Homo sapiens: one gene and its partners. The protein of the gene in region 2 purifies or fractionates together with the protein of the main gene of each other region. This does not show direct contact. Each region holds a gene or a part of one and is shown on either strand. Other genes may lie near its edges. The genes, in order: POTEE, TGDS and MTF2.

What was found.
Region 1: the proteins of TGDS (region 2) and POTEE purify together in Homo sapiens (affinity purification with mass spectrometry; 2 studies listed by BioGRID and IntAct, with this or other methods). This does not show direct contact.
Region 3: the proteins of TGDS (region 2) and MTF2 purify together in Homo sapiens (affinity purification with mass spectrometry; 2 studies listed by BioGRID and IntAct, with this or other methods). This does not show direct contact.

What each region holds. Positions count from the first base shown.
Region 1 is NC_000002.12:131,247,523-131,251,276, reverse strand, and holds part of POTEE (POTE ankyrin domain family member E), read right to left. Parts: intron 500-3,754; coding exon 429-499; intron 1-428.
Region 2 is NC_000013.11:94,594,324-94,598,077, forward strand, and holds the start of TGDS (dTDP-D-glucose 4,6-dehydratase), read right to left. Parts: upstream 1,830-3,754; 5' UTR 1,814-1,829; coding exon 1,728-1,813; exon of another isoform or gene 1,652-1,727; intron 1-1,651.
Region 3 is NC_000001.11:93,082,196-93,085,949, reverse strand, and holds part of MTF2 (metal-response element-binding transcription factor 2), read right to left. Parts: intron 1-3,754. UniProt on the Homo sapiens protein: Polycomb group (PcG) protein that specifically binds histone H3 trimethylated at 'Lys-36' (H3K36me3) and recruits the PRC2 complex, thus enhancing PRC2 H3K27me3 methylation activity.

The DNA of each region.
Region 1 (3,754 bases), on a different chromosome or scaffold from region 2:
TTTTTTTTTTTTTCACATGGAGTCTCGCTCTGTCACCCAGGCTGGAGTGTAGTGGTGGATGTCGGCTCACTGCAAGCTCCCTCTCCTGGGTTCATGCCATTCTCCTGCCTCAGCCTCCCGAGTAGCTGGGACTACAGGCACCCACCACCACGCCCAGCTAAGTTTTTGTATTTTTACTAGAGACGGGGTTTCACCATGTTAGCCAGGATGGTCTCGATCTCCAGACCTCGTGATCCACCTGCCTCAGCCTCTCAAAGTGCTGGGATTACAGGCGTGAGCCACCTTGCCTGGCCAAAAGATTCTTAAAAAAACAATCTACTGATTCTCAAAGCCTAGTCTGAAAGGTAATTTCATTTGGACTATCTAATATTATTAAGGCAAAAAAAACACAACATTAAACAAAAGTTTAAATTTAAAAGTTTCCATGCCTCTGGCTGGCCATTTTCACTGCCTTTAAGCCTTTGTGACTCTTCCTCTGATGTCAGCTTTAAGTCTTGTTCTGTTGAAAAATCCATACATTCAGTTAAAATCAACCACTTAAAACAGTTAAAAACTATTGCCTTTTAAAAACAGATTTGAGACATTTCATTTTATTTCATAAATTGAGTGTTTCATCTTTTGTGAAATTGTCATTTAAGAAATAATTCTCAAAAACTTCAAAAACCCACTTGGGGAGATAGCAGATGTCACCAGATTGAAGACAAACAAACATGTCAAAAATTCCCTCACAAATTCATCCACCCAACATCCATGAACAAAACCACCAGAAACACAGCTTTAAAATACAGTAGAAACATATAAGGTGACACAGTGTACTGTTCTCCACTTCCTAATAGTACCTTATAAATGATTTCCAAAATCACTGCTGACACCTTTATTAGTGTACAACATCTTCCTAATATCTAAAATGTTTCTCTCCACTATTCTGACAAATTTATTTTCTTTTTTTCTTTTTTCTTTTTTTTTTTTTATGAGCTAGAGTCTTCCTCTGTCACCAGGCTGGAATGCAGTGGTGTGATCAGCTCACTGCAACCTCCGCGACCCTGGTTCAAGTGATTCTCCTGCTTCAGTCTCCTGAGTAACTGTGATTACAGGCAAGCACCACCACACCCAGCTGATTTTTGTATTTTTAGTAGAGATGGGGTTTCACCATTGGACAGGATGGTCTCGATCTCCTGACCTCGTGATTCCCTCTGAAAGTGCTGGGATTACAGGTGTGAGCCACCACACCTGGCCTTATTTTCATCTTTTGAAACAATGCTATATGAAGTTTTCCTTGATTCTGCATGTCTTTCCCCAAATAAACAGGTACCTCCTTCCTTGAGGCTGCCTTAGTACTTTACTGATTTTTCTACTGCATCTTGACCACCTAAACTGTACATTATTCCTCCACGTCTGTCCCCTCTGCTCCAAGACTGCAGGGGAGAGTCTTGCACATCATCTTTGTAAAAACAGTCTTTGTTTTACTCAGAAATATTTTATTGAGTCCTGCTAAATACATGCTAGGCATTAGGGTTTAAAAAGAATTAAAATAAAGCATGTCAGAGATGGCTTTTCTAGAACACATGCCCAAGCAGAGACTTAAATATTGAGACTAGCCAGATTAAAAGGTGTAGAGGGCAGGAAAGGGTGACGGCATGCCACGCAGCAGCAAGAGCGGGAGCGACTCCTGAAAGAGTGAAAGTATTTGCCTACAATAGAAGGATGAGTGAGTAGGGCACTGCCAGCAGTTCAGTAATGCCAGAGACAGGGCACACAGGGAAAAGGGCTAAAGATGGAGAGTGGGGCAGAAGTCAGATTATGAAAGCATTATGTGTAATTTTAAGATGCTTGAACATTAATGTTCAAAAGTGGTCCCGGGTCCTATCTGCATTTAGATATAGATCATTTCAATGCCAAAACCAATATTCCTAGTGAACAATTATTCATTAAGACAAGGTGACAGATAGCTCATGTGGACACAGCTGAGATGATACAATGTAGCAAATTCTAAACAATTCTCATGAACACTTGGAAAGTCAGTTCTATAATAAAGTCATACAAATTATAATAAATCAGTAAATATTTGGTTTCGGAAGATGCTTTGTAAAGTTATAATGCATATGAATACAATTAACAGTCGTGAATTCAGAGCTGTGAAAATAAATCAAAGAAACCACATTGTGTTTGAGTCAGCAATCTTTAGATTTCTATCCAGTCTTCCCATCCAGTCCATAAATTCTAAGTATAATCCTGGTACTCACTCTCAAGTTTACGTTAAATACTATCCCATTACAAAAAAACACTCTTTCTCTTACTTCTTTTCATTATGTCCTGCTAAAAAGATTCTGATTGGCTGCAGGCGGCAAGAGGGAAAAACACAAAGCACATTTTGCAGAAAATGATTATTTAGAAGTCAGAACTATGACATGAAGCCAAGCAGGGCACTCTAGGACCGAATTTGCTGTGCTGCCTTCATACGCTCCTTGCTCTTTCTTTTCTGGCAGCTGTGACTCACACAGGTCATGGAGAGTATCATTCCCTAAGAGGAACAACTCCGATATTCATCTTTATCTATTAAGTTCATCTGTCCCAATTCTGTGTTCTGTGGATGCTGACTTTCTGTCACGGACGATGATGCACATGGACATTTATTACTGACTTTCAGATTCTTGGATCTTTGACAAGTCTTATTACTTAGAGTCAAACTAGTAGGATGCGAGTTATAAATGCTGATTATCCAATTACCTACTCAAAATACCCTACACGAATATTCCATTAAACATGCATCGAAAAACATTAGTCATTCCTGCTGACCTGCTGCTCTTTGCTCTTCTGTATTCACCAGAAAATTTCCTACTCCTTCCTCATGTCCAGGTTAAATACTAGTGTGCAATCTGGAAACCTGTACATCATCTGAGATTTCTCTCTGTCCCCCAAGCCTTTCTCATTCAATTATCACTAAATCATATTGACTATACCTCTCTTCTGCCTCTGTTTTATATTCCCACTGCCACTGGGAACACAAACATTTACAAAATGACTTCTATTTAAAAGAAAACTGCCAACTATTAATGTTATTTCTTACAGGAAAAAAAATTAAGCAAAACAAGTGAAAAGGGCATAACGAAGGCCAACATAGTAAAATGAGTAACTGAGATTTCTAACGTTATTTATTTCACCATGGACGGGTGAAAACCTTGTAATACATTGATGCTACTCCAAGGATGTGTGACATGGAAACTATAGCTGACTACTGCAAAAGCTTCCTTTGTCTCCTGGTTTCTTTGCATGATTATCTCCCATCAATCCCAGGAAACTATAGGCCACAGGCCAAATCCAATCTGCATTATGGTTTTGTAAATAAAGTTTTATAGGAGCTCAGTCATGCCTGTTTGCTTACATATAATCATGGTGGCTTTCACACTACAACAGCAGACAACAGCACGGTTAAGTAGATATGACAGAGACCACATAGTCCAAAATATTTCCCACCTGGTCCTTTAAAGAAAAAGCTTGCTAACCCATTTTACACCATAACCAGAATGCCTTAATACTCAAATTTAATCTTGTGGCTCCCCTGCTCAAATTTCTCCAATGAGCCCCCTCCAGCACACATTGTTGGCTCCCTATCAATAGCCATTCCTCATTCTTTCTGGCAGAAAAAACATAAGTCTATTGGGATATTTAATATCCCAATCCCCCTCCTCAGCCTCAGAAAGAAATGTTTATTCTAAGCTAATCAGATATTTACCTTCCCAGTGCCTGGTTTGGG
Region 2 (3,754 bases):
ATAGTCAGTTGTCTATATTTAATAGTAACTTCTGCAATTGCTATTTCTTGGTATAAGATTTTGGTAATGTTAAACCAGAATCCTCAGGAGGCTTCTAGACTAAACCCAGGATTCCCAGGCTAATAACAGCTGAAACCATTCTGAGTTGGATATCCACAGTGGGTCCTGGGCTTCAGAGGACCCTAAAGGGGAATCACAGGCATATCTCAGTGAAATGATCTACCAGATTTACCATGTATACTTAAAATGTTGGGCTCCCAGGAGAGGGGAGCCCTTGACCAAATTATGAACTTGAAGTTTGTATTCGGCATTCCTTTCACAGCACTTTCTAAGTCGCACCCTTCCTGGACCCGCACTCTCACACAAGTATCACCCTTTCATGTCCATAGTCCTCTTTCTCATTAAGTGAAACTTGCCAGCCTGATGCTCTCCCCCAAATGACTTGTCGGATTAGAAGGGGTGATTTAATGTGCAAATGGCCATAAACAGGAATCCTCACATTCCCACTTCTTCCACTAGCCACTGAGTTCCTTGAGGGGAGGATAGGAGAGTTTCCTGTTTATTACTCTTGCATTCATCCATTCCACAATTACTAAAGACTTATATAGAATGGGCCAGGCATTCTTCCAGGTGCTGAATGAACAGTAGTCTCTGTCCTTACCGAGTTTGCATTTTAGAGTGGGGATACAAGCAATAAACAAGCAGACACAAATCCGCAATATAATTTCAGGTAGAGGTTAAGTGTGCTAGTTGGGAGAGGGGCTATTTTAGATATGGTGGTCAGGTAAGAACTCTCTGAGGTGCTATCTGAATAAAAACCAGAATTGAGTGGTGCAAACAGCCTAAGGAAAGGGGAAGCAAGTGCAAAGGCCTCAAGACAGAAGTGTGTATCTTGGTGTGTTCCAAGAACTAAGAGGGGAAGCATGGCAGGTACAGAAAAGCAGATCAGGTTGCAAAAGTAGGGCTTGGGCACTTGAGTTTTCTAGATATGGTAGAGTTTGGGCTTTATTCTTAAGTGTGGCAGGAACCACTGAAGTAAAATCCTGCTTCTACCATGATCTGATTGACTTAAGAAACACTGACTTGTATGTGAGCAACAGGCTTTAAAGGAACATGAGTGGACGCAGTTATGGCCAACCAAGAGGCTACAGCAGCAGTCGAGGCAAAAGATGACAGTAAACATGGGCTAGGGTGGAAACGGGAAACTGGTGAGAAGTGGTCGCCGTAAGGATATACTTTGGAAGTAGAGAGGACTTGCTGCTCGAATGTGGGTCTGAGGAAGAAAAGGGTGTCAACAGTGGATTTGTAAAAGTTTGCTGATTACATAGATGTCCTATTATAGTCCTTAAATCGTTTTGGGGGTGCCTATATGTACAGGGCCCATCGTGGGGTGTGGGTGCTCTAGGCTGGAGGTGGGAAGCAGTCGGTGAGCAGCTTAGGGTAACTTGCACGCACTCAAGGAGTGACATGGTGAGCACCTCCGGCCACAGAAGGGCGGAGAGTAACGCAGCTTTGGAAGAGGCGTTTTAAAGAAGTCAGTTTCAAAGGAACCACTTCTTTGCAGGCCAGAGAGAGAAAAGCTGGTCCAGGTCGTGCATTAGGACCCTCCCCATATCAGAATAAGGACCCCTCAAAGCTGGACCCAAATTACCTAGGGCAAGCAGAGCTGCGGGAAAAGGTAGGGGTTTCTGGGGAGCCACTGCTTGGCTAGCGGCGCCATTACCTACATGAAACCAGCACCGCCGGTCACCAGGACCCGCTTCGCAAAGCCGCCGGGAAGACCCCACGGTTCCTCCCAACACGCCGCCGACATCTCCCAGCTCAGCAGTGCCTAGTACCGTAAAGAGTATGGTCTGAAAAGCGCAGGGAAGTTCCGCCGCGACCTTTTGCGACGCGCCTCGCTCGCGGGACACGTTAACAGAGCAGCCAGAGGCAGCTTCCGGAGACTGCTCTGTGGCCAGTTTCTGCCCGCCCACTAGCGGGCTGGGCGGGGCCGCGCTCACCACGCGCAGGCGCTGCTCCTTTCCGCCCTTGCCTGGTCCGCCAGGTGCAATTGGGGTCGCCCGGATGGTAGGGGTATGGAACGTTTTTCCCGGAAATGCCACCACTATGGATCAGATTTATGAATGAGTACCTTTTTTCATTCTTGTACTACAGCCATCTCTAGAGGTTACCTATCAGTTGAGCTGAGAACGGGGAGTTGTTGCAGATGGAGATGGGAGGTTGCAATTTAAAAATGATTTTTTTTTTTAGTGGGGCGGGGACAGGGTCTCCCTCTGTTACCCAGGCTGGAGTGCAGTGGTGCGATCACGGCTCACTGCAGCGTCGACCAATGGGGCTCAAGCAATCCTCCCACCTCAGCCTCCTGAGTAGCTAGGAATACAGTCGTGCGCCACCACGCCCGCCTAATTTTTGGTAGAGATGGGTTTCGCCCTGTTGTCCAGGCTGGTCTCGAACTCCTGGGATCTAGCCAACCTCCCGCCTCAGCCTCCCAAGGTCCTGGGATTACAGGCGTGAGCACCGTGCCTGGCCTGCAAAATGATCTTTTGCTGTTGTTAATATTATTTCAGGCCGGGCGCCGTGGCTTACGCCTGTAATCCCAGGACTTTGGGAGGCCGAGGTGGGCGGATCACCTGAGGTCAGGATTCGAGACCAGCTTGGCCAACATGGTGAAACCCTGTCTCTACTAAAAATACAAAAATTAGCCGGGCGTGGTGGCGGGCGCCTGTAATCCCAGCTACTTGGGAGGCCGAGGCAGGAGAATTGCTTGAACCCGGAAGGCAGAGGTTGCAGTGAGCCGAGACCGCACCATCGCACTCCAGCCTGGGCAACAACAGCAAAACTCCGTCTCAAAAAATAATAATATTATTATTACAGACAGCGCAGAAGGCTTGCAATCATGATAAAGATATTCCCTAGGTCCTACGCTGATGTCTTATTCTATTCTCTCCTTTGCTCACTCCGCCCCAGCCTCCCCACCCTCCTTGCTCTTCATTCAATGTGCCAGGCATGCTACTTCCCCGGGACCTTGATTGTCTTTCCCCAGATGTCTGCCTAGTTTTTACCCTTACTTCCGTTTTCAGCTTGAATGGCATCCTATTGACCACCACAATTAAAATAGCGAGCTCTGCCCAACCCTGCCGAATCATCTTATCCTTCTTTATTTTTCTTCCTAGCACTCAACATTTACATTGATGTCACTGCCCTCTGTTTAGTGTTCCATGAGGTCAGGGGCTTTGTTTTGTTTTCTGCTGTAATCGCATGTCCTTAGAGACTTGGCACAGAATAAATGACCATTAAATATTGTCGAATAGATAAATATCTTTTTTTCCCCACCATAATGTTTGGCAAAGCTGAAAACGAATGGAAACATCCAGTACAGGTGTATATGTGGAAGAATCATACCACAACCTTTTTACAAGGCAAAGTGGTAAAACATATGAAAATTTCAAATGTTCATATTCTATGACCCCCTCAAATTCCATGATGTATAATATAGATAATTGTTCATTGCTGTATTGCTTGCAATAATGAAACACTGGAAATAATCTAAATGTGTATAATGTCTTCTAACTTTTAAAATGCAGTAAACTGCTATATAGCCTTTAAAAAGAATATACCAACATGGAATGAAGACCAAAATATATTGCAGTCGATACGTACAGTTTTTTTCTGACCAGACTCCTCCCCCCACTGTCCTTTATGATCTCCCCAAGTTGACCCAGGCAGGCCACAGAATGAAATCTGGCTGACT
Region 3 (3,754 bases), on a different chromosome or scaffold from region 2:
TGATAACAAACGACTGTGTTACTGGTTTATGTATATGCTATTTAGTTGTCCCTTGGTATCCACAAGGCACTGGTCACAGAACCTCCTGAGGATACCAAAATCCACAGATACTCAAGTTCTGCAGTGTGACCCATAGAACCTATGGATGCTAAAAGTTGGCCCTGGCTGGGCCCAAGTGGCATGCCTGTAATCCCAGCACCTAAGGAGGCCAAGGCAGGAGGATTGTTTGAGGCCAGGAGTTCAAGAATAGCATGGGCAACATACCAAGACCCCGTTTCTACAGAATATTTTAAAAATTAGCCAGGTGTGGTGGCATGCACTTGTAGTCCTAGCTACTCAGGAGGCTGAGGTGGAAGGATCACTTGAGCCCGGGAGTTTGAGGGTACAGTGAGCTATGATCACGCCACTGCACTCCAGCCTGGGCAACAGAGAGACCCTGTCTCTTTTAATGAAGAAAAAAAAAAAAAAAAAAAGGCCGGGTGCAGTGGCTCACGCCTGTAATCCCAGCACTTTGGGAAGCCACGAAGGGCGCATCATGAGGTCAGGAGATCGAGACCATCCTGGCCAACATGGTGAAACCCCGTCTCTACTAAAAAATACAAAAAAATTAGCCGGGCATGGTGGTGGGCATCTGTAGTCCCAGCTATTCATGAGGCTGAGGCAGGAGAATGACATGAACCTGGGAGGCGGAGCTTGCACTGAGCCGAGATGGTGCCACTGCACTCCAGCCTGGACTCCGTTTCAAAAAAAAAAAAAGAAAGAAAGAAAAGAAAAAAGGTAATGTAATTAGGATCCATAACTATACTATAATGACAATGCTTTGAAATTTTAAAAGTATTTTTAGTACTAGATAAGCACTTCACAAACTACCCTTCTATCTCCCTGATTATGGGAGAATTCTTTAACTACTATCAAAAAATCCTCAGAACTGAGAATCAACAGAGGGGCTCAAGTACTGATAAGAACTTTAAATTAAATGAGGATAGGAGAAAGTGATGCTTTATCTTATCAAGGAAAATGGTTTACTTTGTTTCTATATGTTCAAAGTATTTCTTTTAATACTTACATTTTTAAAGACAGGGCCTTGCTCTGTCACCCAGGCTGGAGTGCAGTGGCACATCATAGCTCTCATAGTTCACTGAAGTCTCAAACTCCTAAGCTCAAGCAATCCTCCTACCCAATCCTCCTGCCTCAGCCTCCTGAGTAGCTGGGACCACCGTGCCTGGCTCAGGAATAAATTTAACAGAAGAAGTTCGAGAATTGTACAATGAAAACTACATAATATCAGAGAAAGAAATTAAATAAGATCTATATAACTGGAAAGGCATCCCATGTTCATAGATGTTAATAATATTAAAATGGCAAGTCTTCCCAAATCAATCTATAGATTCAATACAATACCTACCAAAATCCCAGCTGCGTTTTTTTGCACAGACTCACAGATTGATCCTAAAATTTACATGGAAAAGTGAAAGGAACCCAGAATAGCCAAATTGTTTTTTAAAAAGAAAAAAACTTGAGGACTCACAACGTCCCAATTTCAAAACTTACTATGAAGTAATGGTAATTAAAATATTATGGTACAGTCCTAAGTACAGACACATAAATCAATGGAATAAAACTGGGATCCAAGAACAAACTTTTACATGTATGGTTAATTTATTTTTGACAAGATTGTCAAACACAAGTCAATGAGGAAAGAATTAGTTTTTTTTAACAAATGGTACTAGAAAACTGGTATCCACATGCAAAACACTGAAGTTGGACCCCTACCTCACACCATATATAAAAAATTGACTCAAAATAGATGACGGACCTAAATGTAAAAGCTAAAACTATAAAGCTCTTTAGATACGGCATCAAAAGCATAAGCAAAAAAAAAAGGAATAAATTGAACTTTATCAAAATTAAGAATATTTGTGCTTAAAAGGACACCATCAGGAAAGTGAAAAGATAATGCACAGGATGGGGGAAGAAAAGTCTGCAAATCATATCTGATAACAGGCTTGTATCCAAGAATAAAAAGACAGTCCCATTTTTTAAATGAGCAAAAGACTTAAATAGACAGTTCTCCAAAGAAGGTATACAAATGGCCAACAAGTATGTGGAAAGATCCTCAATATAATTAGCCATAAGTGAAATGCAAATCAAAACCACAATGAAATACCAATTCAAACCCTAGGATGGTTATAATCAAAAGATAGACAATAATAAGTATCAGTGAGGATGTGGATAAACTGGTGAGATAATCACTCACCAGATAATCGCTAGTGAGCTTGTAGAATGGCACAGCCTCTTTGAAAAACAGTTTGGCAGTTCCTCAAAACACTAATCCGAGTTATCATCTGACCCAGTAATTTCACTCCTAGATATGTGTACCCAAGAGAAATGAAAACATGTTCACCCAAACCCTATACATGAATGATCACTGCAGCATTACTTACAATAGTCAAAATGTGGGAACAACCCAAATGTCCATCAACTGATGACTAGACAAACAAAAAAAGGTATATTCATATAATGAAATATTATTTGACCCTAAAAAGATATGAAGTGACTATAAATGCTACAACATGGCTGTTCCATGAAAACATTAACGATATAGTTTGGATTTTGTGTGCCCGCCCAAATATTCCGTCAAATTGTAACCCCCAACATTGGAGGAGGCCCCTGGTGGGAAATGACTAGATCATGCAGGCAGATTTTCCCCCCTGCTGTTCTCATGATACTGAGTTCTCTGGTTGTTTAAAAGCATGTGGAGCCGCCCCCATCTCTAATCCTCCTGCTGTGGCCACTTCAAGGGGGCCACTTCAACAGGAAGTTTCCTGAGGCCTCCCCAGCCATGCTTCCTGTATGGCCTGTGGAACCGTAAGCCGATCAAAATTATTTTCTTTATAAATTACCCAGTCTCAGTTATTTCTTCATAGCAGTACAAGAATGGACTAATATAGTCATGCTAAGTGAAGGAAGCCAGACATAAAAGGCCACATATTGTACTACTCCATTTACATGAAATGTCCAGAACAGGCAAATTTATAGACACAGAAGGTAGATTAGTGGTTGCCAGAGGATAGTGGATAGGTGAAGGGGACTGACTGTTAATGGATTAAGATTTTCTTTTCTTTTTGGGATGATGAAAATATTCTGAAATTAGGTATGGTGATGGCTGCACAACTTTGTGAGTATACTAAAAAAAATCACTGAACTGTACACCTTCAAAGAATGCATGTGAATTATGTACATATAACTATAGTATATAAATTATATCTCAATAAAACTTATTAACAACTGTACAGTTAAGATTTGTGCATTTCAATATATGTAAACTTCACCTAAAAATAAACCTTTAAAAAATAATAAAAACAATGGGCTGGGCACAGTGGCTCAATCCCAACACTTTAGGAGGCCACAGCAGGAGGACTGCTTGAGGCCAAAAGTTCATGACCAGCCTGGGCAACACAGTAAGATCCCGTCTCCACAAAAAAAATTAAAAATTTAAAAATTAGCCAGGTGTGGTGGTGTGCACCTGTAGTCCTAACTACTCGGCAGGCTAAGGCAGGAGGATCACTTCCGCCCAAGAGTCTGAGGCAGCAGCAAGTTATGATAGCACCACTTCACTCCAGCCTGGGTGACAGAGCAAGACCTTGTCTCTTTTTACAGAAAAAAAAAAAAAAAAGAATGGTTACATAAAAGCTCACTATTCTATTCTGCTCACTTTGTATTATGTTTGAAATATTCCTTAAGTTTTTTCTAC